Linked DNA regions of Homo sapiens. The protein of the gene in region 5 purifies or fractionates together with the protein of the main gene of each other region. This does not show direct contact. Each region holds a gene or a part of one and is shown on either strand. Other genes may lie near its edges.

Region 1 (3,500 bases), on a different chromosome or scaffold from region 5:
ACAAAAATGGGAACATCTTACAACATATAAGTGAAATAATTTGGGATAAGTATTCATGAAGCTTGATTCATGAAACCCTGACTCAATCAGAATTGAGTTTATTTCTTGAGTAGAAAGAGACTTTGTCATTGGAAAAATGCCCCAGCACCACTGCAGCAATTCTGATTTAGCTGGTCTCTAGGGAGTCCAAGGCTCATGGGTTTTTCCTAATGTTCCAGTGATGTCAGTGTCAAGGTCAGATTCCAAGGTCAAGGACCACTGCCCAGGAGGCTGTGTCCTGGCCCATAAAGCACTTGGTGGTGGAGAGAATGAGCAGGTTATGCTCTAGTTGGCAGCAGGCAGTGTTCTGGGCCAGCAGGTTGTGTCTGGGGATCTTGGTGTAATAAAGAGGGCCACCATAAAGACAGATGCAGCACAGTTTGGAGCCCATCATTTGCCTTGTTAGCCCAACTTAGTTCAGCTGTACCTGGCAGAAAAGGCGATGGGGCTGGGTAGAGAAATTGTATTTCAGACCTTGGTCATCACAGCAAAAAGAACGCCGAAAGAAAGGAAGCTAACTGGAGGCTTTTGAGTTCCTTATAGTTCTTGCCCTGGTAATTTAAGGGATTTTGGTCTTCTATGGTATTCTACCACAGCCATTTTAAGATGGTGCTTCAGTGTGTGTTGCTTCTGTCAAGTACGTTGTCAGATGTGTCATACGGTAAAGACTGAATGAGCTCAGAACTTAATCCCTGCTATGGATACTACTGTTTATAATTCTTTGATACTACATTTTTATTATAATTTAAAATTCACAACTTAAAATATTACATGGTGTTTTTAAAGTTTTTTGAGATCAAAACGGTACTAAAATATACTTTGGGACTGATTTTAGGATTGTTACATATACACTACTAAATTAATCTTCAGCCAGGAATGTATTCCACAAATATAAGTACCTACTGTGTATCAAATGCTGTGCTAGGAGCTAGGGAAGAACCAAGCAGACAACTCTAAATCATAAAAATCATTGCACAAATCGTTAAAGTATAATTGTGACACATTCTGTAAGACAGGGCACCAGAGCTGGAAGACAGTATCACCGGAGGACCTACCCCTGCCAAAGAAAGTCATATTTAAGCCTAAAACAAAAGGGAAAGTGGGTGGAAGGAGAAGCATTGTATCAAGGCCCAGAGGCTGGAAGGAACCTTTCAAGGTTAATAAATAAAGACATATTGACATCTTCCTACTTGAGTTATACAGGTGTTTTCACATATAAGCCATTTAATTTTTGCAAATCTTTGAGTATGCTACTTGGCTGAGGTAGGTAGATAATCTCGTTTTATCAATTGAAAAATCAGATCTTGTCTGTGTACAGAATTTAGGAGTTCAGTAAAATCTAGACAGTATCACATCTATAGACAGTTCCTCAACGCTACCCTGCCACTGGTGGCGGGTTTGTGGGGGCAGATGGAAAAGGGACAAGGCATAGACTGGAAAAGGGGAAGACTAAGGAAAACCTTTCAGTGAAATATTTCATTCTGAAGTACCACTTAAAACATACAGTTATAATTTAGCAACTAAGTATAGAAAAGTATTCATATTGATACACTGGATAATTTCCATTTATTTTAAAAATGCTTAGCATTAGCATATAAAAACCTAAGGAGCTGAGATTCCTCATCAATAAATCAAGTAGATTGTGCAGTGGTTCTCAAAATGTAGTCCCTGGTTCAATTCTTGGGCCCTCCCAGACCCACTAAATCAGAATCTCCAAAGTGGGCCCAGCCATTTGTGTTCTAATAAGCCTTCCAGGTAATTCTGATGCTACGGTTTGAGAATTATCTCTAAATTATCTCTTGAGATTTTTTCTAGTATGAACACGTTATGATTCTAATGTCCAGCATTAATTTGTGCTATGTTTAAAAAAAAAAAAAAAGATTTGCCTTTGGAGTGGTCACATAATAGAGCTACTTGAGAAAGATACTGTTGCCAGTAGGCCAGGTCAGGTTCTTCGCTTCTCTGCACAAAAGAATTTGAAAGGGAGACCACAGTGAAAATGTAGAAGGTTTGTTGCAGAGTGAAAGCAAGTGCACACTCAAAAGAGGAGCCTGGATGTGCTCAAAAGAGGCGTGTAATGTGGTCAGGGCTCGCTACGCAGACAGGCATGATGAAGGCACAAATATTCTATGATGAAAGGAGAGGGTTTCCAGGAAATGGGTGGGCAGTTCCCAGAATCAGGGCGCCACCCTTTTCTTGACTAAATGTGGTTAATCTGGAACTGCCATAGCTTCAGGTACGTGGCAGGGAGTGGGCGGTTTCCCCAGGGAAGTTTTATGGTAATGGGGCATAATGCAGCCAAGAGTATGCATTCAGTCAAGTTTTTGGCCATCTTGGATTTAACCAATTGCAGCAGGCTTCCTCTGTTACATTCTTATCTGTGCCTGGTCCCCAGGTAGCCCTTTCCCATTGGCACAGCTGCCGGCATTCACCTATGCAAGCTTTTACTTGTGTATCTATGCTTGCAGCTTGATTTTTCAGGCCGCTTTTTGTTAGAAAAGAAATGATTTGGGGGCTGCTTTTTATTAAAAGGGAAACCTTGCCGAGGACTCTCTTACCCTCACTATCTGTCTAAATAATTTCTAGCTCCTGTATCATCAGGCTGTTACCAGTATATCACTTTGACAGAAAAATGCATTTAAGCATTAAGTCTTTTATCTATAACTTGATTGCCAGGCTTTTCCTTCATGCCAAAAAAATCTGGCCTGTTTCAGAGTCCTAAGACAAGAGTTTAATAGGAAGACAATTTACAAACACGTGACAGAGTTTGTATTCTCACTATCTCAGAAGTAACCTGGAAACTTGTTAGAAATACAAATTACTGGGCCCCACCCCAGAACTATCTTATGGGAAGCTCCTAGGATAGGGCCCTGCAGTCTGCTTTCATAAACCTGTCTAGTGCATGACACAGTTTGAGTACTATTGTTTTGAGGAAAAGGAAGGATGGTGTAGCACTCCAAGGCCAGTAACCGCCAGCACCCCCTTTAGCCCTGAAGGTAAAGAGAGCTGGCAGTTCCTGGAGCTTGAAAGTCCAGCCTGCCTTCCGCCCCTCCCACTCCAAATCTCCTGGAGTCTGTTGGGGCACAGAGGAGAGTGAAGAATGGAACTAAAGGGAAGATACTGGCACATGGCATGCTGTCGGAAGATATCTGCCCCACTTCTTTTAATAGGGGAGGGAGGTGCTCTTGTCTAACCAGACCCATTTTATTTTTTCTGTGAAAAGTGCAGTTTCGATTGGTGGAGGGAACCAGAATCCTGGAAGACAGCCTGGGTTTGGAGGCCTCAACTTCCGCGACAGTTGTCACTGCATCTTCATTAATGGAGCAAAATAGATTAAGTAGCCTCTTGGGCTGTGGTCAGATTTGAACCAACTGTTGTTGAATTAGGGGAAGGCCTACTATTGACTTTCCCAGTCTATTAGTCTATGTAGTAGCCACATCATATAAAGAAACTAGTAATTT
Region 2 (3,149 bases), on a different chromosome or scaffold from region 5:
CCTTGGAGTTCTTCCATCCCCCAGTGGTACCTCAGGACCCAGGGCTGCAGACACAGGCTGGTGCTGCAAGGGCTCCTGCCCCATTCTCAGCCTTCCTTCCCTCTCCTTGTCTCATGTTGACCGGAGGGTAGGGGTCTGTCCCTGGTCTTCCTGGTAGGTTTTGTACACATATTTTGCTACTGTGTGGATCCATTTATTTTTATTGTGGAGTGTATACAACAGGTTGCGAACTGGCTGCCTGTGTCTTATTTTGACTTGCACTGCCATTTTGAGGGGAGAAGAATCAATTAGTGGCAAACATTTAAAAATGCAATTTTTTGCAGACCAAAGTATAATTTTAAAAAATGCAAATTTTCTAAAAGACACATCTCTTGAAAAATGAGATGATGTGGCCAGGCGCAGTGGCTCACGCCTGTAACCCCAGCACTTTGGGAGGCCGAGGCGGGCGGGTCACGAGGTCAAGAGATGGAGACCATCCTGGCCAACATGGTGAAACCCCATGTCTACTAAAAATACAAAAAAATTAGCTGGGCGTACTGGCATGCACCTGTAGTCCCAGCTGCTTGGGAGGCTGAGGCAGGAGAATCACTTGAACCCGAGAGGTGGAGGTTGAAGTGAGCCAAGATCGTGCCATTGCACTCCAGCCTGGCGACAGAGTGAGACTCTGTCCCAAAAAAAAAAAAAAAAAAAGATGCACGCAACCCACAAGTCAATGACCAGGTCCCTCTGTGTTGGTTGCTGCTCTGGGCTCTCCGTTAGCCCCCCTCCACCTGCTCCACTCGCTCCTGCCTGGGTGGCAGGAATTTGAGTTTGCTATTCCTGTTTTATAACCTGTTCTGCAGAAACCTATTTTTATTAAAGATTTTTATAAGAAAGGGAAACCTCCATGTCTTCAGCTTGTTCCCTGGGCCAACGGCTCTGAGGTGACAGTGGCATTAGGATGTGACCAGTCACTAAGGGGCACTGCCTTCCTGCAGGGGAGTCCCTGAAGCCCCAGCCCCAAGTGTGGCAAAGACAGGACCAGATCCCAGGAGTCTAGGTGGGAGTGAGCCGACCCACCATGGCGTCCGTGGCCACAGCTGTAGACAGGGCTCCTTGCAGTGGGCTGCACCGTGGCCTGCTGAAAGCACACAGTGGACACGAGCTGAGTCCAGAGCTTCCTCTGAACTGGGGCTTAGCTCTCCAGTGGGGAACCATGGTCAGCGGCTGTAGCCCCTGGGCAAGATGGTGCCTGGCTTCCTGCCCTCTGCAGGGTCATGGGAGTGTCTGGGAACTCAGGGTCAGGGCCAGATGGCTGTTCCTGGGGCCTGGGGCTCCAGCTCAGGCTGTTTGGGAATAGGAGGAACTCTTGGCTTGGAGAAGCCCATCACACAGCGGGAGGCCTGGGATGGTTGGTCTGCGGGGAGCAGCTCAGACTGGGGGTGGCAGAGCCGTGTGTGGCTGTGTGTGGCCAAGTCGGGAGAGTGGCCAGTGCTGGGCCCTCTCTAAGGAGCCCGAGGGCCACAAGGACTGTGGAAAAGGTCTGAGTGAGGGAGTCGGGAGCTAGTGGCTAAGGGACTTGCTTGAGGACGCTCCGTGCGGCCACAAGGAGAGGCCCAGGCAGGACCAGGTCAGGAGGAGGCTGGGGCAGAGGCCCTGGCAGGAGGTGGGTGGGCTTGGTGGGGATGGGAGTAGCCAGGGTGTAGGTGAGGATGGGGAAGGGGCCCCCCTGCCTCCTGGCTTCCCTGAGGGCTGGGCTGGCCAATCCCAGCCCTCAGTCAAGCCCGGAGGCAAATGTGTGCAGGGAGGAGAGGTGTCCAGGTTGAAGCTTTGGGAGCCCTTGGAGGCAGCAAGGCAGACTCGCCTCTGGGACCCAGCACCCAGCTTGGGCCTGCAGGTGGGGACTCAGGAGTGAATATCGTGGGGGCTTTGAGCAAGACCCTCTGGGCCCAGCCTCACCTTCCATACTTTGAAGTCAAGGAGTGGACCTGTGCTGTCTCAGTTTGCTCTGGGGTCTGGGCAGTCCTGTGGTTTGGGCAGAGGCCTCAGAGGGCCCTAGGGACAGACTGACCCAGGTCTGAGCCTCTTGGGAGCGTGCGGATGGCCGGCCTCAGACAGGCCTGGTTGTGGGTTTGTCTTCCAAGGGGCACACGCGCACTCTGGTGCTTCCTGGCATTCAGAAGAGAATGGGGAATCCAGACATCAGGCCTTCCTTCTCCCTGGGAAGGATGGCAGGTGCTTGGAGCCAGGCCTGTCTTGAGAGCCAGGGCTCTGGGTCTTCCTCCTCCAGTGCCCTGTTCCACGCCTTCAGTGCACAAAGCACTCCCCTCCTGGGATCTCTTCAGGGATCCCCGGGATGCAAACTGGCCAGGGATTAGAATTCCACATTTGAGCAAACAGACTGAGAGTGGAGAAGCACCCAGCTGGACATCCTCTAGGTGTTCCTGGCAGAGGCCCTTGCTACTTGTCTGTGCCCAAAGGCCCTAGAGGGTCCTAGATGTGGGACAAGGTCTCAGCAGGGCTCCAGTCCCAGGCCTGGAAACAGCTGGGGGTGGGGGAAGCTGGCTGGGTGGGTGTGGTTATCTTTTCCCAGCTTGTGGCTCCGAGGTGACAGAACCAATCTCAGGAGGCTTTGTTTGGTTAATAAAATCTACTGAATGGTTTATTTTAGCTTTGGCTCTGCCTGTGGTTTCCCGAAAAGCTACTTTTTCATAGTCATGTTTCCATCAACTTCCTTCTTCCCTCACACTGCCTGTCCTCCAGCGTCTAAAACACACCACCTCCCTCCTGTTTTGCTTTAAGACTGGTCACAGCATCCCCACCCAGGCCTCCTGGACCTCCTCCCGCTGCATCCCCAACTGGCTGACCCCATCTGCCCTTGGGCAGTTTATAAACAAGGAAGAAATGAAAACCTTTCTCCTCTTGCCCTGCACTTGCTCTGCAGTGCTGCGCATGCACACCCCATTCCCTGAAACACTGGCAGGATCTGGACCCTAGCTGGGGCTCCTCACCCTGCTCACTGTGCAGCACTGAAAGCAGGAACCCGCCTGGATGGACATCAGGCCTGGCCCAGCACCCAGCTGACTAGCAAGCAGAGGGATCCAGGGGGACGGGCAGCGGCACCCAGCTCCTTCTGGCATCTCACTTGCTGCCCACCTGCTCCACCAGAA
Region 3 (3,500 bases), on a different chromosome or scaffold from region 5:
GGTAAAGGCATACTGATTTTTTTTTATTTGAAGTAGTAATATGTATTCTCCATCTTAAATAGATTTTTTTTAAAGTAAATTTTATTAAAAGAAATGAGCGATAGCCTAGATGGTTTTGGAAATGGCAGAACTGGAAAAGGAGCTAAGGAATGACTGGGTTCAGGGAAACCCTGTGGCAGAGGTGGCCTGGTTCAAGCTGAATGAGGCAGATGGCACTGATCGCCAATGCCAGGAAGCTAGAGGAGGACGTCTGCTGAGGGATGGGCTGGTTTGAGCAGTGGGTGGTGGCAAGAAGGACGTTCCAATGGGCAGTGTTCTAGATCACAGCAGGCACAAGGGAGTGGTGTTTATTCTTGTTGTTTTTTCTTCCTCCAGAAACGGGCCTGAATTTGAAGCTAGGATCCGACAGAACGAGATCAACAACCCCAAGTTCAACTTTCTGAACCCCAATGACCCTTACCATGCCTACTACCGCCACAAGGTCAGCGAGTTCAAGGAAGGGAAGGCTCAGGAGCCGTCCGCCGCCATCCCCAAGGTCATGCAGCAGCAGCAGCAGACCACCCAGCAGCAGCTGCCCCAGAAGGTTTGGAGCCCAGTGCCCCCTTCACTTACGCAGGGCTTGAGAGGGAAACAGGGATAGGGAGGGAGTACACAATTAACTCCAAATCTCACAACCACCCAGGGAGAGAAGTGAGGTCGTTATCCCCATCTCTCAGAGGCAGACCGAGGCCCAGACAGCAAAGTACTGATGTTAGTTGGCATTTCCCGAGCACTGCTTGTCAAGCTCTGTGCTTGGTACTTCAGGAGTCTTGTCTCATTGACTCCTCACAGAGGCTGTATGAGGAACCTGAGAGTTGGGGGACGTGTGATTTATTCAAGGCCTTGCTCAGGGTGTGAGGGCAGTGCCGTGATGTGAGGGCAGCACTTCCTACTTGGCTGTGCTGAAGGATGCAGTGTGGCCTGTGGGCTCCTCCTTGTGCCATCCCTTCCCTTCTATCTCTTCTTCCCAGGACCCCTCCATCCTGGCCTCCCCTGATACCACCTTCCCTGTGCTGAGGCCCAGCACTAGGGACTATTAGGATTATGAATGAAGAGAGAGGCTGACATGTTTTTCCTCCTGTCCAGACCTGCCTTCTGCACTCCTGAACCATGGTGGAAAAGGCAGTCCCTCCTTTTGCAGTGGGCTATAAAGGTTGAAGTCAGGTTCTAAGACCTTGCGTTGCAATGAGGCCTAGGACCTCAGGCTACCTCAGTTTCTTCATCTGTAAAGAGGATTCACAGTACCTGTGCTACCTCATCGTTCATGCGGAGGTCATGGAAACACTTTGTACAGTGGGGTTTTCTGCACACATGTAGGCCTTCTGCACATCCATCCCTCTTGGATGGGATTTAATAAGTCCTATTCTTGTTGGATCTTCTGTCACCCAGTTTTGGCCCTCAATTTCAAGGCAGGAGCAGAGATACAGAGGGGAATGGTTCTCACTCAGCCATTCAGGAAGTTGAGGCCATAGTTGGCTGGGAAGTCAATGCTCTTGTGATTTAGAATTCTCTCACACCAAGTGCTAGTGGTGTGTGCATAATTAACAGAAGTCTAGAGGTTCACAGCATCCTGCTGAGGGGTGCATGCCCATGTCCCCTCCCCTCCCCTCCCCTGGAGCCTGTTCACCCCTGTGCCTCTCGCCTCATACTCCCTTTGCATCTTAGGTCCAAGCCCAAGTAATCCAAGAGACCATCGTGCCCAAAGAGCCTCCTCCTGAGTTTGAGTTCATTGCTGATCCTCCCTCTATCTCAGCCTTCGACTTGGATGTGGTGAAGCTGACGGCTCAGTTTGTGGCCAGGAATGGGCGCCAGTTTCTGACCCAGCTGATGCAGAAAGAGCAGCGCAACTACCAGTTTGACTTTCTCCGCCCACAGCACAGCCTCTTCAACTACTTCACGAAGCTAGTGGAACAGTACACCAAGGTGCCTGGGCAGGATGGGGCTGGGGTCCTGGGCCCAGGAAAGGAAAACATCTTATGCTTGGAAGCACTGTGTCCACTCACTGTCTACAAGGACATCGCTTCTCCATGGGGCCTCTGAGCAAATGTTTTGAATCCCAGTTTAATGTAAAACCTTGATTTCTATTCAGTTATTTCTTTAAGTGCAACACAGACTGCCGGTTTCTAAAGAGAAGGGAAATACATGCTTGCTAACTACCATTAGGCGATTGCCTGCTATGTGACAAGGCCACGTGGTGCTTGCTGCTTTTAAGTGCATTTCCGTTTTCAGTTGCCTAGTAAGGCCCTGAGAAGAAGCCAACCTTTAAGAGTTGCCTCCTTTTACCTAACTTAGTCCTCACAAGAAGCCATGAGGTGTTTTCCCCCCATGTTTGAGAAGCAGAAACAGGCTCAGAAAGGTGAAGTCACGTACTCAAGGTCTGTCAGCTAGTAAGTACTATGCTGAGATTTAAACCACATTTGACCCTAAAACTTTGGTTCTTCAGCTTATAAAGTGCCTTAAATTGGAAACAGCATTTAAATAGGTGTTGAGAGACACTTTGATGTCATGTAAGTCAGTATAACTAACATCACTAAGAAATTATGTATGCAGCATCTTCTCATTTAATCTCCGGTAGCCTATAAGGTAGCCACTATTGCTATGTTCACTTTACAGAAGAGAAAATTGAGGTGCAGTGAAGTTAGCATGGCCAGGGTCACATAGCTAGGAGGTGGCAGGGCTGGGGCTTGAGCTCTGGCATTTTTACTCCAGACCCTAAGAACTCAATTATCATTTGACAGAGCTGCAATCAAGAATCAGGACAAGTCAGTTCTGGCATTTAAAATAATCAGATTATTAATTTATTGCAAAGTGCACTGACAGCTTTGCCTGTGGCACATTTTTCTTGCTACACATGTCATGGAGGTTGTTTTCCTTCCCTTTACAGTGGGATGGTCTGTACATCTCTTCTTCATATCCAGAAACAACACCTCAAAGATCTGACTTGAAAGGACTTGAGAATTTCCTAACTCTACTCACTTTTAAGTACATAATTAGAATTTTAACAATGTGTGTGTTTAGAAAATGACCAAATCCAGAAGCTAGTATGGTAGCTAAAATAACAGTCATTCAAGGCCCAAGGCCCAAGGGTTTCTATAAATATGCAATATCAATTTTAAATGAACCCTGGATTAATTTCTCCCAGTGGACTGCTTCCAGGGTTAAAGGTCCCAGATCACTTTTTATTCTGTTACTTTCCTGTTTTTTCTTCAGAACTTGGGTATTGGCATTTACCACTGTAACTTGAGGTTCCTGCTGTCTGTTCTAGCCATGGAAGACTGAGCAGATAGATTCTTGGGGTAGAGGTGGAAGGAGGATTGGGATAGGGCCGAGCCACTTTGCCAGTGGCAGTAGAAGCTGTTGGGGCTGTTTAGAACAAAGGCAGCATTTGTTCTCTCAGTAAGTATACATTGTCAGACATTATTCAGGGGGCTGGAGATGTAATCGTGAACAAAAGAGAAATC
Region 4 (3,500 bases), on a different chromosome or scaffold from region 5:
CGCCCTTTACATTTTCACTTATAAGAAATTATAGGCCGGGTGAGGTGGCTCACGCCTGCAATCCCAGCACTTTGGGAGGCCAGGGCCGGGGGTGGATCATGAGGTCAGGAGTTCAAGACCAGCCTGGCCAACATGGTGAAACCCTGTCTCTACTAAAAATACAAAAATTAGCTGGGCGCAGTGGAAAGTGCCTGTAATACTAGCTACTCAGGACGCTAAGGCAGCAGAATTGCTTGAACCCAGGCGGGGGGAGGCTGCAGTGAGGCGAGACCATGCCACTGCACTTCAGCCTGAGCAACAGGGTGAGACTCTGTCTCAAAAAAAAAAAAAAAAAAAAAACAAAACAAAACAAAAAAAACAAGAAATTATAGACATACTGCTACATACTATATGTGTACAAAGACATAAATACAAGCATACTCATTGCAGAGTTGTTTATAATAGCCAAAAATTCAAACAGCCTAAATGTTGATCAACAAAAGTTTGGTTAAATCAGTCATAAAATATTCCAATAATGGAATAATTTGTAGTTATTAAGAAGAGGAAATATCTACTTGTACTGATATGGAATGAACTATAAGATATGTTAAGAAAAGGAAGTGAGATGTAGAACAGTGTGAATAATACCCTAGTAACTGCATTCTTCTTAGGGCAAACACGTATCTACTTGTTTATGCGTAGACTGTTTTTGGGGAAAAACAAAACAAAACAAGAAGCTGTCAATAGTGCTGCCCCCAGAGAGGTTGACATGTTCTTACACTAAGGACAATATACAAAGCAGAAATCAGGAGGCATTTATAAGACTGGGTCTAAACAGAAGTGAACATGGCAGACTTGCATCCAAGATAGAGTCACTATTGTCTATACAGCAGCCTAAAGAAGGCAGACAAGGGAACAGGTGGCCTCATAATGGTGCTGGGGAAGAGGCAGTGATCTTTAACAATCTCTTGATGCTTTAGTTCCAACATTGTTTTGTTTTGTTTTGTTTTTTGAGATGGAGTCTCGCTCTGTTGCCCAGGCAGGAGTGCAGTGGTGCAATCTTGGCTCACTGCAACCCCCACCTCCCGGGTTCAAGAGTTCTCCTGCCTCAGCCTCCCAAGTAGCTGGGATTACAAACATGTGCCACCACGCCCGGCTAATTTTTTATATTTTTAGTAGAGATGGGGTTTCACCATGTTTGCCAGGTTGGTCTCGAACTCCTTGTCTCAAGTGATCCACCCGCCTCAGCCTCCCAAAGCCTATAGGATTACAGCCGTAAGCCACCACACCGAGCCTCCAATTTCTGTTTTTAAAGCTACTTTTACTTTTTGTTTGAAAGGGAAAAAGGATGGCGTAGAGGTAACTTGTTTTCCTTTTTGTCTCGATTCATCTTCAACATCTTATAAGATCTCAACTGTACTTAAACTCTGCTTTGCTTTATATCAGTAACTTACACCCTTCTTCTTACCATTTTAATTTCATAAACATTTCTTAACTTCTTGTTGCTTTTTTTTTTTTCATTTGCTGTTTCATTTATGTTATCTTGTAAGTACAGTTGGGAGACAAAGAATAGTCAAGAAAAGGCCAAAATTTAAATACTTGAGTAAACAGTAATTTCCCTTGTACTTGAGCATTTACTACATGTCAGGTATCTTGCTAAATGCTCTGCATGGATGATCTCATCTGGTCCTCATAACAGTCCTATGAGGTAGGTGCTCCTGTAGTCCTACATCACAGATAAAGAAAAGAAGCTCAGAATGGAGAAGTGAGGTCACACAGCACACAAATGGTGAAGCTTGGGTTTGAACCCTGAAGTCTAGCTCCAGAGTCCGGACACTTCATCACAGCTCAAACTGTCCCTCAGTGGTGAGAAAGCAATAGTAAACCTATCATTTCATCTCCTGAAAGTCAAACTTGCTAACATTCATACATAGTGAATGTGTTAGTCACTTGAGGAAGAAACCCAGAGACAGTCAGTTCACTTGTGACTAAAATATTGGGAGCCACATAAAACTCCAAGTAAGGCAATCTGGCTAAATTAAGAAGGCTGCTGTTGCCTATCTGTTTGGAGAAAGAACACATTAATAGAAGAGGAATTATCAGCACAGTCTAGTCAAAAGAACTCCATGAGTATAAGAACTTGGCACCTTTTGGCTGCTCACACCTGTAATCCCAGCACTTTGGGAGGCCGAGGCAGGAGAACTGCTTGAGCTCAGGGGTTCGTGACCAGCCTGAACAATATAGGAAGACCCTGTCTGATAGATAGACAGACAGACAGACAGACAGACAGATAGATAGAACACAGCAACTTTCACCCAGCACCGTCCAGGAGAAAGAAAGAGACACAGATGCTGGTGGCCACACCTACTCGGGTCATTCCAAGGGCATCCTGTGGAGCAGGGAGAATTCACCCCTCATCAGGGGCTGTATGACATTTCTGTAACCTGTCTTGGCTCTGTACTTCCTGATTACAATTTGGCTTCCCATGTGGATGTGCCAACAGGGACAAAGTGTATATGTCAACTGTGTCCATCTGTACTGGAGAATTATTGCTAGCCATAAATGAACAGTTCTGAATGAATTCTAGTTTGCACTTTGGTCTCTTGTAGCTGAGCACACATCTGTTTCGTGAGCGCTAATAAAACTGAGTGTCTGGATGTGCACTTGGTAAGTAGTAACCATACCAAAATCCTGTCACTGTCTCAGAGGAAGTCAGAGTATTAACTGATGTCTTCAGCAGAAACAACCTCATATTCCCAATTAAACTTGTTTAAAGGAGTGACTTTAAAAATAAAGCAAAAATTGGCCATATGTTGGTAATCTGTTATATAGAAATTAACTGCTATTTTCTCTACTTTTCTGTATATCTGAAATTGTCCACAGCTGAAAGGAATAAAGGGGAAAACAAAAGTCATTCTAATTCCTCCAGTTTTCCAGTATGTACGATGCAACTGAAAAAATCTTAAGGACTTTCAAGATTTATAAGGTTAACTAAAAAATACACAGTATGAAAAGTCATCCCTTACAGTAAGGGTTTCTCTGAGCTCACTGTGTTCTAGAAAGAGGCCATCATTCCCTTCAGTGCTGAGCATAAAGCTAATGCAGACACACGATTCAAGCCCACAGGTTGAACATGATTATTTGACGTACCTTGAATACCGGCAGCTTCTGCCTCTGCTGCTCTATGGAAAGGGCAGCATAAGGGTTGTAAACAACCGTTGTCCCAGAGTTTTCAGCCAGACTTTGTCTCTCTTCAGAGATGCTTACACCTGGCCCCTCTGTACCTGCAGCAGAAATGTTTTTTTTTCAGATTCTCTGATACAATGAACAGAAAAAGGTGTTAAGTTTATAAACTTTCAAAGATGAAGATATACAGAAGAAGCAATACTTTTTATCTCAAACTACTCAAAGGTATTCAACCTTAACTTTAGGAAAGAATCCAGAAAAGTGCCTACGAGGAACTAAAAATCTTCCCTAAAAGCTTCACTGCAGTGTCAAAAACAAACAAGACAGGGTTAGGT
Region 5 (3,500 bases):
TCATGTACTCCATAAATACATTTCTACTGTGTACCCACAAAAATTAAAAACAGAAAATTTTAAAAAAGAAAATGTACATAGTAGGAAATGTACAGCTACACATAATTTAATATGTATCTTAAAAATTTCATTTTTCAAATGATTGTACAGTAAGAGCCTTTTTGTTTGACATACAGCTCTAATGAATTGTAATAGATGTATTGATTTGGGTAACCACTACCACAATTAGGATATAGATGTTACACCACCTCAAAAAACACCCTTGTGCTATTCGTTTGTAGTTACACTTTCCTTCACCTCTGACAATCACTGATCTGTTTTCTATCACTATAGTTGTCTTATTTTTTTTCAATAATTTCAGTTCTAATTTATTTTTAATTTTTATGGCTAACATAATAGATGTGCATATTTATGGGCTACATATCAAATTTGATACAAGCATACAGTGTGTAGGCCAGGCATGGTGGCTCATGCCTATAATCCCAGTGCTTTGGGAGGCCTAGGCAAGCGCATCTCTTGAGCCTAGGAGTTCAGTACCAGCCTGGGCAACACAACAAAACCCCGCCTCTACAAAAAAATACAAAAATTGGCTATGTGTAGTGGAGCACACCTGTAGTCCCAGCTACTCCAGAGGCTGAAGTGGGAGGATCACTTGGGCTCAGGAGGCGGAGGTTGCAGTGAGCCAAGATCACGCCACTGCACTCCAGCCTGGGCGACAGAGTGACACCCTATCTCAAAACAAAAAACAAAGAAAAACATACAGTGTGTAATGATCAAATCACGGTAATTGGGATATTATTTCTTTGTATTAGGAACATTCCAATTTTACTCTTCTAGTTATTTTGAAATATACAATAAATTACTCTTAACTGTAGTCACTCTATTGTGCTACCAAGCTAACTAGCCAAACTAGTGCTACCAAACTAGCTAACCAAACTAGTGCTACCAAACACTAAATCTTACTCCCTTTATCTATTTTTGTACCCGTGATCCACCTCTTCTTTATCTTCTGCCTCCCCACTATTCTTCCCAACCTCTGGTAGCCATCATTCAACTCTGAAGATCATTTATTTTTTAGCTCCCGTATATGAGAGAGAGCACGCAATATTTGTTTTTCTGTGCCTGGCTTATTTCACTTAACATAGTATCTTCCAGTTCCATCCATGTTGTTGCAAATAACAGAATTTCATTCTTTTTTATGGCTGAATAGTATTCCATTGTGTGTATGTACCACATTTTATTTATCCATTCACCTCATGATGGACACTTAGGTTGGTTTAGCTGTGTCTTTTTGACTATGTCATATAAATGGAATCATACAATATGTACTTTTTGAGACTGGCTTCCTTCACACAGCTTAATACTTTGTGAGTCATTGAAGTTGTTGCAAGTATTAATAATGTATTCCTTTTTATTACTGAGTAGTTTACATTATATAGATGAGCCACAATTTGTGTTAACTATTAACTCACTGAAGATAATTTCATATTATTGTAAAATGTAATAGTCATTATCTTTTATGATTTGAAGATGGGAGGGCAATTCAAACTCGGGCTGCAGTTAAACTTAAATACATTTTAACTTCTACGTTGGCCTGCCCATTCTACTTTGTTTTATACAGGTTATCAGTGGGCATCTTGGCTGGGTTCGATGTATTGCTGTGGAACCTGGAAATCAGTGGTTTGTTACTGGATCTGCTGACAGAACTATAAAGGTAATAATGAAGGAAGAAAAAATAAACATGACTTTGTGTTTGTCATGTAAGTTTAATCAGTTATTATTTCCTGTGGCAGGAATTGCTATTGCAGTTCCTCTGTTATTTTAGACCTGAATAAGGAGTAAAATTTATCATTTATACTAATAAGTGTTCTAAATAAATATCTGTTTGAAAAGTGCTATTTAAACCACTTTTTCTTTACCTACTGAATACCTACCACTAATTCCTTTATACTTACATTGTTCTCTCCAACTGGTTACAAAATTAAGAGCATGCTCATTCATAGAAAATGTGGAAAATATAGAGAATTAGGAAAGTACATAGACCTGTATATAATCCTACCATTGTTAGATATTTGGATAAGTTTCGTTTTAGTATTTATTTCTGTAAGTATCAATACCTTCACTTCTAAGCTCTTTTCCTGTGTGTGTATCTTTTAAAAAATCATTCTTAGTATGTAATTTTGTATCTTGCTTTTTTCACTTAACGTTGTATCAAAGGCATATTCCTGTGAAAAATTTACCATCTTTTAAAGTGGTTGCATAATATTATATCATTTAGATAGTCTGTAATCTGTTTTCCTATTACTGGACAGTAGAGTTTTTAGTCTGATTTTCACCATTACAAGTAATGCTGTTAAGTTTTGTATATAAGACTTTTTCTGTATTTTAAATTATTTTGTTATGGTAGAGTTCCATAAATGGAATAAATGGGTCAAATATTTTTGAAGCTGATACCCAAAGTACAAATTACTTTCCAAATGGGTGAATCGATACTTGCAGTGTATGAGAGGATCCTTTTCAGCACATTGGTTGTACATTCCTTTACAAATATCTAATATGGTAAGCAAAAATGGATACTTAATCTTTTTAAAAAACTTTGTATGAAATTTCTAATGAGTGTGAACTTTTTCATATCTGTATTTGCTGCTTTTAGGATTTCTTTAAGTTGTTGCCAGCCTCAGTTAATTTAATACCATACTTTTCTTACTGTTATTATCAAAGATATCATTTATATAACAAGAAGGTTAACCTTTTGTCATCTAATTGCAAATATTTTTCCAGTTTGAGCATGCCAGTTTTTTTCTTGCTTTTATTTGGAGGGGAGTCATTTTGCAAAATTTTTTATTTTTACGTATTTGTTATCTTTTTCCTTTTGTCTTTGAAAGCTCAGTTTTAATAATCAGGTTTCTAAAATTTTGTTTTGCAGTAACCAGTGAAAGAAAAAAATAAATATTCTTTGATTGCAGATCTGGGACTTGGCTAGTGGCAAATTAAAACTGTCATTGACTGGGCATATTAGTACTGTGCGGGGCGTGATAGTAAGCACAAGGAGCCCATATCTGTTCTCTTGTGGAGAAGACAAACAAGTGAAATGCTGGGATCTCGAATACAATAAGGTAAGTTTGGAGTTAAGGATTTAAAACATTGTGAACTACTATTTATCTTTCTAATTCTAGAAGTTTTAACTTTCCTGCTTTGTCTTTAGGTTATACGGCATTATCATGGACATTTAAGTGCAGTGTATGGTTTGGATTTGCACCCGACAATCGATGTGTTGGTAACCTGTAGTCGAGATTCAACTGCACGGGTAAATGGGATAGAGTTGTGTATTTATCTGTAAATATATTGCATCTTGTAGGGTGCACTTTCGGTTTCAGTGTCTTCAATTGATTGATAGAGAATTAAAGATAGCTGTCTTGAGTCATCAATATCCTAGTCCCTAAGTTTCTTAACTTGCATTTTTTTCCACCTTAGTCTTCAGTTGTATGGCCTCACCATGT
Region 6 (3,500 bases), on a different chromosome or scaffold from region 5:
TTGGGGAGGGGGTGGGGAGGGGGGATGGGGGAGGGACGGGTCAGTCTTCCTTCAGGCTCCCAAACACTGCGGCTGGCACGCTCTGCTGCTCCAGCCGAACCTCTGTGGGGAAGGCGGGAGCCAGTCACCCTCCTGGCGTTGGCCTGTCCCCCGAGGCCCACCCTGGTAATGCCACCGTCCCCGCCCCAGCCGGGCCCTCACCGTTGGGCTCCAGGTCCATCTCGTCCTCGTCCTCGTCCTCGCCCAGCTGGATCTCCTCGGGGTTGACCTGCTGTGCCAGCTCTGCCAGCTCCTCCCGGGAGGCGTCACTCCTAGGGACGGGCCATGCTGCCTCAGTTCCCCACCCCGGGCCCCCTTGGGACCTGTCCCAGTCCTGTCCCGTCCAAGGATCCGCCCTCACCTCACGAACAGGATCTTGCTCTGGGCGCGCAAGGGCTGGTCACGCTCCGCCTCAGCCGCCAGCTGCTCTGCCCGCTGTTCCAGCAGCTTCATGTCGTCCATGCCACTCTGCCCAGGGGCCAGGTCAGACACTAGGGGGTGGGAGCAGGGGGTCAGCGCCACGGGGGCCCCTCCCACACATCGGACGTTGCACTATCCCAGTCCCCCAGGTGATGGCCCAGCCCTCAAGGAGATTGCCATCAGGATCCGAGGCTCCCAGACCCGGAAAGCCCAGGTCAGGCCGGGCTGAGATGCCCTGGATCAGGAACTCAGCCAGCTGGGACGGCTCACCGGTGCCCGTGGCACTGCCCGAGACCTTGAGCATCTGCGAGGCCATGAAGTTGACCTGCGTGTTGTACGTGGCCTGCACGCTGCGCCGGATACGCAGCATTTCCTTGATGGTGTCCTCATTGCCATGCCGGACCTCAAAGTCCTTCCACGTCTGCCAGAACGCGCCGGTCGTCTGCGTGGGGGGCAGGGCAGGGGTGGGTGTGTGTGCCCGTGAGCTGGCTGACTCCGCCGCAGCCCCCAACCCTGATACCCGTCCCTCCCCACAGCCCTACCCGGGGGTCACAGATCTGGGAGCAGAAGCTGTAGATGGCCCGGGCGCGGTCAATCTCCCCGAGCTTGCACTCCATGTCTGCAAACCGCAGGCACATCTCACGCGCGTGCTCGTCCGACAGCACCTGGACACCGGGGTTGGGGAGGCCGGGAGTGAGGCCGGGGTAGCTCGGGGGCTCCCAACACACCATGGCCATCCCTGTGCTTCCAGAAGGCTCCTCCTCAGCCCCTCCCACCTGCCTGGACCCCTTCCGTCTGCTCAGGGACCTCTGGCCCCGGCCCAGCCCCCCACGGTGGGTACCTCAATGGCCTTCTGGTAGATGCCGCGGGTGTGGGTGACCCCATAGATCTCGGCCGCCCGCTTGATGTAGATGTTGAACATGTCATACTGCTGGGCGGGCTCCACGGCCCTGGTGGCACGCTCGTACACGGCCATGGCATGCCGGGCCAGGCCCCACTCCTCCTCCAGCTGTGCGTACAGCAGGTACAAGGCTGGGCGGGGTAGGCGGGGAGAGGGGAGCACGGTCAGCCGGGGCCAGTCAGAAACCCAGCCCGCCCGCCACCCCCCCCATGCCCTCTGCCCGCCTCACTCTTGGCATATTTTGGGGGGCAGCCGTCCAGAGCCTGTTCAAACAGGTCCCGTGCCCGCTCCAGCTTGCGGCCCCCATAGCGGGCAATGAATTTGGTCAGGTAGGTGCTCCAGATGTCGGACACGTTGGGCCACTTGAACAGCGAGATGCCGCGCTCGTACGCCTGTTACCAGAGGGAGAGTCACATGTGAGAGTCTGCAGATAGAGACCACCAGGCACCCGGGATGTCCTTGGGTGGCGTCTGTAGGGAGCCTGCCAGGAACTCCCTTGGGGCCCTTCCCTGTCCACGCCTCCCTGTCCCTAATGGCAGTTGTGGGGGTCTGTCCTCTGCACTGTCTCCCTCTGTGAGAACCCCAAGAACAGGGGTGCAATGGGACCTGCTAAGCACAGTCTGGCCCCATAGGAGGTGACATGATGGGTGAAGGTGGGTGGCTCCCCAGCTCCGCTGACGCTGGCTGCCTGTCCCCAGGGAGAAGGCCGCACCCCCTGACAGAGGGGCAGGCAGTAGCACGCGTATGCATGTACGACCTCCCCATTTGTGTATCTGTATAATGCCCACACGATCCATAGAAACACACACTCAAACATGACTGCTCCGGCCGCGGGACATGGCCTTCCCACGGACACGCAACCCACCCCCTGGACCCCACAACCCGTCTCCTGAGCAGCGGGGCAGGGAGAGCCCGCACACACTGGCACCAACACCCTCCCCATGAGTCATGGGTGCACGTGGAAGTAGGATTCTGTGCCTGCTATGGAATGAACTGTGCCCCCCTCAAAACATTCATATGCTCAAATCTTAACCCCCAGTACCTCAGAAAGTAGATTCGTTTGAAGATGAGATCACTAAGTTAAACTGAGGTCGTTAGGGGCCACCTAATCCATTATGACTGATGTCCTTTATAAGAAGAGGAAATTTCAAAAGTGACACACACAAAGAGAAGGCCACACAAAGACATAGGGAGAAGGCGGCTGTCTGTAAGCTAAGGAGAGAGGCCTCAGGAGGAACCAGCCCTGCCCATGCCTCGATCCTGGACTTCCAGCCTCCAGGACGGGGAGAAGCTAAATCTTTGTTGTTTAAGTCACCCAGTCTGTATACTGTGTCACACAAGCCCCAGCAGATTCGTAAGTTGCTGAGGACCCCTGGGGAGGGGACACTGCCATCAGGGGCCTCTGGGTCCACCCTAGCCCCTCACCTTGAAGCTCTCCTCGAAGTACTTGTGCTCCTCCAGGAACATGGCATAGTTGATGACGATCTGGGGTGTTGCGATACGCAGGTCCAGGATGCGGTCGTACACGGCCTTGGTGGACTGCAGGGGTGGGGATGGGAAAGGTTGGAGCTGGTTCTGGAGCTGAGTCCGGGGCCCCGTCCCTCCCCAGCCACAGGCAGCTCACCTGGAAGGTGCCGAGGCTCTCCTCCAGGTCGGCGAGCATGGACCAGACCTTCAGTGACTTGTACACGCGGTTCTGCACGGGCTCTGAACCATCAAAGTACTCGGCCCGGCGGGCAGGCAGCGCCGTGGCCTTCTGCAGGGGCAGACAGTGGCCGGGGAGGCGCTCAGGGGCTGTCCCTGGCCCTTGCCCTACAACCTGCAGCCCCCACCCCACAGCCTGGGCCTGTTCTCACTCGCAGCAGCCGCAAGGCCTCATCGTAGTTCTCGTGTCGGAGCTCCAGCTCTCCGCACTGACACCACACGCTTGCCAGGTCATCCACCTGCTTGAAGTTCACCTTGGTGGCCTTCTCCAGGATGACACGGGCCTGCCGGGGCGGGCAGAGGCGAGGCTGAGACCCTGCCCACCTGGACAGCTCCCACCATCAAGGGTCAGAAAGGTGACCATGCTCACAAACATACAGGCACAAACACACAGGCACACACACAGGCACACACATGCGTGCACATATGCATGCAC
Region 7 (3,500 bases), on a different chromosome or scaffold from region 5:
ATTATAGGAATACTTACACACCAGGCTGTAACTTAGTGTTGGTTTTGAAAATACGGAGTTAGAGACAACATTGTTATTCCCAGAGATAAAAAATTTGAAGTGGAATTTTACAAACCTTGGCTGGCATGGATAGGGGAGAGAAAAATTTGGAAAATTACTTTTAATTACTTCTACAGATTACCTATTTATTTATTTACTTACTTATTTAGAGGCAAGGCCTGGCTCTAACACCCAGGCTAGAGTGCAGTGGTGTGATCTCAGCTCACTGCAACCTCCGCCTCCTGGGCTCAAGCCATCCTCTGACCTCAGCCTCCTGAGTATCTGGGACTACAGGTGTGCACCTGTAGTGACTAATTTTTGTATTTTTGTCTAATTTTTGTAGAGACAGGGTTTCATCATGTTGCTTAGGCTGGCCTTGAACTTGTGAACTCAAGTGATCTGCCTGCCTGGGCATCCCAAAGTGCCCAGCCTCATTACCTTTTAATTAATTAATTAATTAATTAATTAATTTGAGACGGAGTCTTGCTCTGTCGCCTAGGTTGGAGTGCAGTGGTGCGATCTCGGCTCACTGCATCCTCTGCCTCTTGGGTTCAAGCAATTCTCTGACTCAGCCTCCTGAGTAGCTGGGATTCCAGGCACCCACCACCACACCTGGCTAATTTTTATATTTTTAGTAGAGATGGGGTTTCACCATCTTGGCCAGGCTGATCCTGAACTCCTGACCTCGTGATCCACCCGCCTCGGCCTCCCAAAGTGCTGGGATTACAGGCGTGAGCCACCATGCCCGGCCCAGATTACCTTTTATGAAATATTTTAACATGCAGAAGAGAATAGGACAAAATATAATGAACACTAACCCACTGCTCAGCTTTATCAGTTCTTCATTTTCTGCCGTATTTTTTCCCACCTTTTTATTTATTTTGAAAACGAAACCTCAGACACAAAGTTACCTTATTTATGAATGTCATGGTAATAATTTGTTTGCTCATAAATATTTGGGTATGTTATATTTGGTATTTTAGCACATAGTTTATTAAGAAATTTCTGAGTTTTTAGTTCTCTGAATTGCATAATAAGCTGCTGAGTTTTATGGAATCTGACGGCTTAATTTTATGGATCACATGGTGTATGTGTAAATGTGCTGCAGTTTGCAGTGTGTTAACAAAGCCCATTAAGCTGTTTGGACTTTATATCTATAGTTTCCAGCAGACAGAAAACAATGCCTGATTTGCATATAAACATTTAATTGTACTGCCTATAAGAAGTTCAGTAATATACTCACCTTAGGATTAATTAACTACAAACAGCTGCCTAGCCCCAGGAGATTTTGGGCTGGGTAATTTTGTTACTAAATTTTAATAAGAACCTAGTCATGATTTACATAGATTTCATACCAACACTATTTCAGTACTTTATGAACCTTTGTAATTGGAAAACTCTGATGCTAATCAGCAGGTACATAAAATCAATAGTTAAAATTCAGTAGCTGAAATTAGTTCCAGAATAAGTGTTATCCAAATGAGAAACTAGTTGCTGAAACTTCAGGATGGAAAAGTTGTTTAGATGGAAAATAAGAGAGATGCCTGATAAGGGGGAAAAAGCAAGTTGCACAATATGTGTAGTGTGCAGTTTTTATAAAACAGCACCCCTTTCCTGTTTTTTAGTTGTGTATGAGGTAGAGAAAAGTATAAAATGATGCTCTAAATTGGAAAATTTGGTAGGGGTGGGCTGGGGTTGGAAATGGGAGGGGTGAAGGGCCAGGTAAAATAGTTTCCTAGGGTGTTTGTTAATGATGCAGAATCCTGGGCTTCACAGCCTGAGTTGGAGTTTCAGAGTTAGTGTATCCAAGACCTAAGGTTCTACCTTTGTAACAGGTGCACCAGGTCATTTCTTTGTAGGTGGTCCTTATACTAGACTAATGCTGTAGAGGAGATTGCAGACTATTTCTCCTGATTCATCCATTTGTTTCTTACCTAAATCCTCATGGAAGTAGCATTTGTGGTCCTTTTACAAAAACCTATTTAGGTAAAAGTGATAAATGCACCTGTGGTTTAAAAAAAAAGCCTGAAGCTGGGCGTGGTGGTGGGCATCTATAATCCCAACTATTTGGGAGGCTGAGGCAGGAGAATGGCTTGAACCTGGGAGGCGGAGGTTGCAGTGAGCCGAGATCCAGCCACTGCACTCCAGCCTGGGCAACAAGAGCAAAACTCCGCCTCAAAAAAAGAAAAGAAAAGAAGATGCCCGAAGGGGGTGGGAGTGGGGCAAATGTAGATTAAATTTTTCAAAATATGAAACTACAAACAGAAACAAAAGTAGAGATCATAGTAAAAAGAACCACCCTGCTCATGTGAGGATATTTCTGGCTGCCTGGGCTGCTATAATGGTTTGGGGACAAAGTAACATCTGTGCATGTAGTGGTGCTGTGTAACACAACACACTATAATAATTTTGAGATCCGATCACAACTGGGGCTGCTAAACTCAGCATTAAAACTATTCTATCATTTTGAGTTTCTTTCTTTCTGTTTGTTTCTGAGACAGTCTCTCTCTCATCCAGGCTGGAGTGCAGTGGCAGCAATCGTGGCTTACTGCAGCCTTGACCTCCTGGGCTCAAACAGTCCTCCCACCTGAGCCCCCTAAGTGGCAGGGGACTATAGGTTTGCCACCATACCTGGCTAATTTTAGTATTTTTTGTAGAGATAGGGTTTTGCCATGTCGCCCAGGCTGGTTTTGAACTCCTGGGCTCAAGTGATCCGCCCACCTCAGCCTTCCAAAGTGTTTGGATGACATGCGTGAGCTACCGCGTCTGCCTCCAGTTTGTGAGACGTGCTCCTGTTCCTTTCTTATGTGGAAATGTGACCCAGCCGTGCCTTAGACTAGATAAGGACATTTTGTTATCCTGCACATCTATCTTGAGGAACTATAGAGGGCTTTCTCCCTTAGCTGGGGGGGTGGGAGGTTTTGCAAATACAGGATGCTATTTGAATCTTTATCTTTTGATTCATGCAGCTAGCAATTGAGCTTTTTTATTTTTTATTTGATTTATTTATCTATTTATTTTTTGAGACGGAGTTTCGCTCTTGTCGCCCAGGCTGGAGTGCAATGGCGTGATCTCGACTTACTGCAACCTCCACCTTCCGGGTTCATGTGATTCTCCTGCCTCAGCCTCCCGAGTAGCTGGGATTACAGGCGCCTGCCACCATGCCCGGCTAATTTTTGTATTTTTAGTAGAGACGGGGTTTTAGCACATTGGCCAGGCTGGTCTTGAACTCCTGACCTCAGGTGATCTGCCCACCTCGGCCTCCCGAAGTGCTGGGATTGCAGGTGTGAGCCACTGCGCCCGGCCTAATTTTTATTCATTTATTTATTTATTTGAGATGAGTTTTGCTCTTTGCCCAGGCTAAAGTGCAGTGGCACGTGATCTCGGCTCACTGCAGCCTTGGCCTCCCGGGTTCAAGCAGTTCTGCCTCAGCCTCCTGAGTAGCTGGGACTAGAGGCGTG

What was found.
Region 1: the proteins of PLRG1 (region 5) and LINS1 purify together in Homo sapiens (affinity purification with mass spectrometry; 2 studies listed by BioGRID and IntAct, with this or other methods). This does not show direct contact.
Region 2: the proteins of PLRG1 (region 5) and ISY1 purify together in Homo sapiens (affinity purification with mass spectrometry; 4 studies listed by BioGRID, with this or other methods). This does not show direct contact.
Region 3: the proteins of PLRG1 (region 5) and SF3A1 fractionate together in Homo sapiens (co-fractionation; 3 studies listed by BioGRID and IntAct, with this or other methods). This does not show direct contact.
Region 4: the proteins of PLRG1 (region 5) and DHX35 purify together in Homo sapiens (affinity purification with mass spectrometry; 2 studies listed by BioGRID and IntAct, with this or other methods). This does not show direct contact.
Region 6: the proteins of PLRG1 (region 5) and XAB2 purify together in Homo sapiens (affinity purification with mass spectrometry; 4 studies listed by BioGRID and IntAct, with this or other methods). This does not show direct contact.
Region 7: the proteins of PLRG1 (region 5) and SF3B1 purify together in Homo sapiens (co-immunoprecipitation; 3 studies listed by BioGRID and IntAct, with this or other methods). This does not show direct contact.

What each region holds. Positions count from the first base shown.
Region 1 is NC_000015.10:100,595,685-100,599,184, reverse strand, and holds part of LINS1 (protein Lines homolog 1), read left to right. Parts: intron 1-3,500.
Region 2 is NC_000003.12:129,126,915-129,130,063, reverse strand, and holds the end of ISY1 (pre-mRNA-splicing factor ISY1 homolog), read left to right. Parts: 3' UTR 1-2,649; downstream 2,650-3,149. UniProt on the Homo sapiens protein: Component of the spliceosome C complex required for the selective processing of microRNAs during embryonic stem cell differentiation. Required for the biogenesis of all miRNAs from the pri-miR-17-92 primary transcript except miR-92a.
Region 3 is NC_000022.11:30,343,395-30,346,894, reverse strand, and holds part of SF3A1 (splicing factor 3A subunit 1), read left to right. Parts: intron 1-375; coding exon 376-583; intron 584-1,704; coding exon 1,705-1,962; intron 1,963-3,500. UniProt on the Homo sapiens protein: Component of the 17S U2 SnRNP complex of the spliceosome, a large ribonucleoprotein complex that removes introns from transcribed pre-mRNAs.
Region 4 is NC_000020.11:38,968,844-38,972,343, reverse strand, and holds part of DHX35 (probable ATP-dependent RNA helicase DHX35), read right to left. Parts: intron 3,264-3,500; coding exon 3,130-3,263; intron 1-3,129. UniProt on the Homo sapiens protein: May be involved in pre-mRNA splicing.
Region 5 is NC_000004.12:154,540,401-154,543,900, reverse strand, and holds part of PLRG1 (pleiotropic regulator 1), read left to right. Parts: intron 1-1,621; coding exon 1,622-1,714; intron 1,715-2,966; coding exon 2,967-3,116; intron 3,117-3,205; coding exon 3,206-3,307; intron 3,308-3,500. UniProt on the Homo sapiens protein: Involved in pre-mRNA splicing as component of the spliceosome. Component of the PRP19-CDC5L complex that forms an integral part of the spliceosome and is required for activating pre-mRNA splicing.
Region 6 is NC_000019.10:7,619,546-7,623,045, forward strand, and holds part of XAB2 (pre-mRNA-splicing factor SYF1), read right to left. Parts: intron 3,349-3,500; coding exon 3,217-3,348; intron 3,117-3,216; coding exon 2,985-3,116; intron 2,900-2,984; coding exon 2,786-2,899; intron 1,753-2,785; coding exon 1,590-1,752; intron 1,492-1,589; coding exon 1,301-1,491; intron 1,125-1,300; coding exon 1,002-1,124; intron 902-1,001; coding exon 730-901; intron 531-729; coding exon 401-530; intron 312-400; coding exon 202-311; intron 103-201; coding exon 41-102; 3' UTR 1-40. UniProt on the Homo sapiens protein: Involved in pre-mRNA splicing as component of the spliceosome. Involved in transcription-coupled repair (TCR), transcription and pre-mRNA splicing.
Region 7 is NC_000002.12:197,425,029-197,428,528, reverse strand, and holds part of SF3B1 (splicing factor 3B subunit 1), read left to right. Parts: intron 1-3,500. UniProt on the Homo sapiens protein: Component of the 17S U2 SnRNP complex of the spliceosome, a large ribonucleoprotein complex that removes introns from transcribed pre-mRNAs.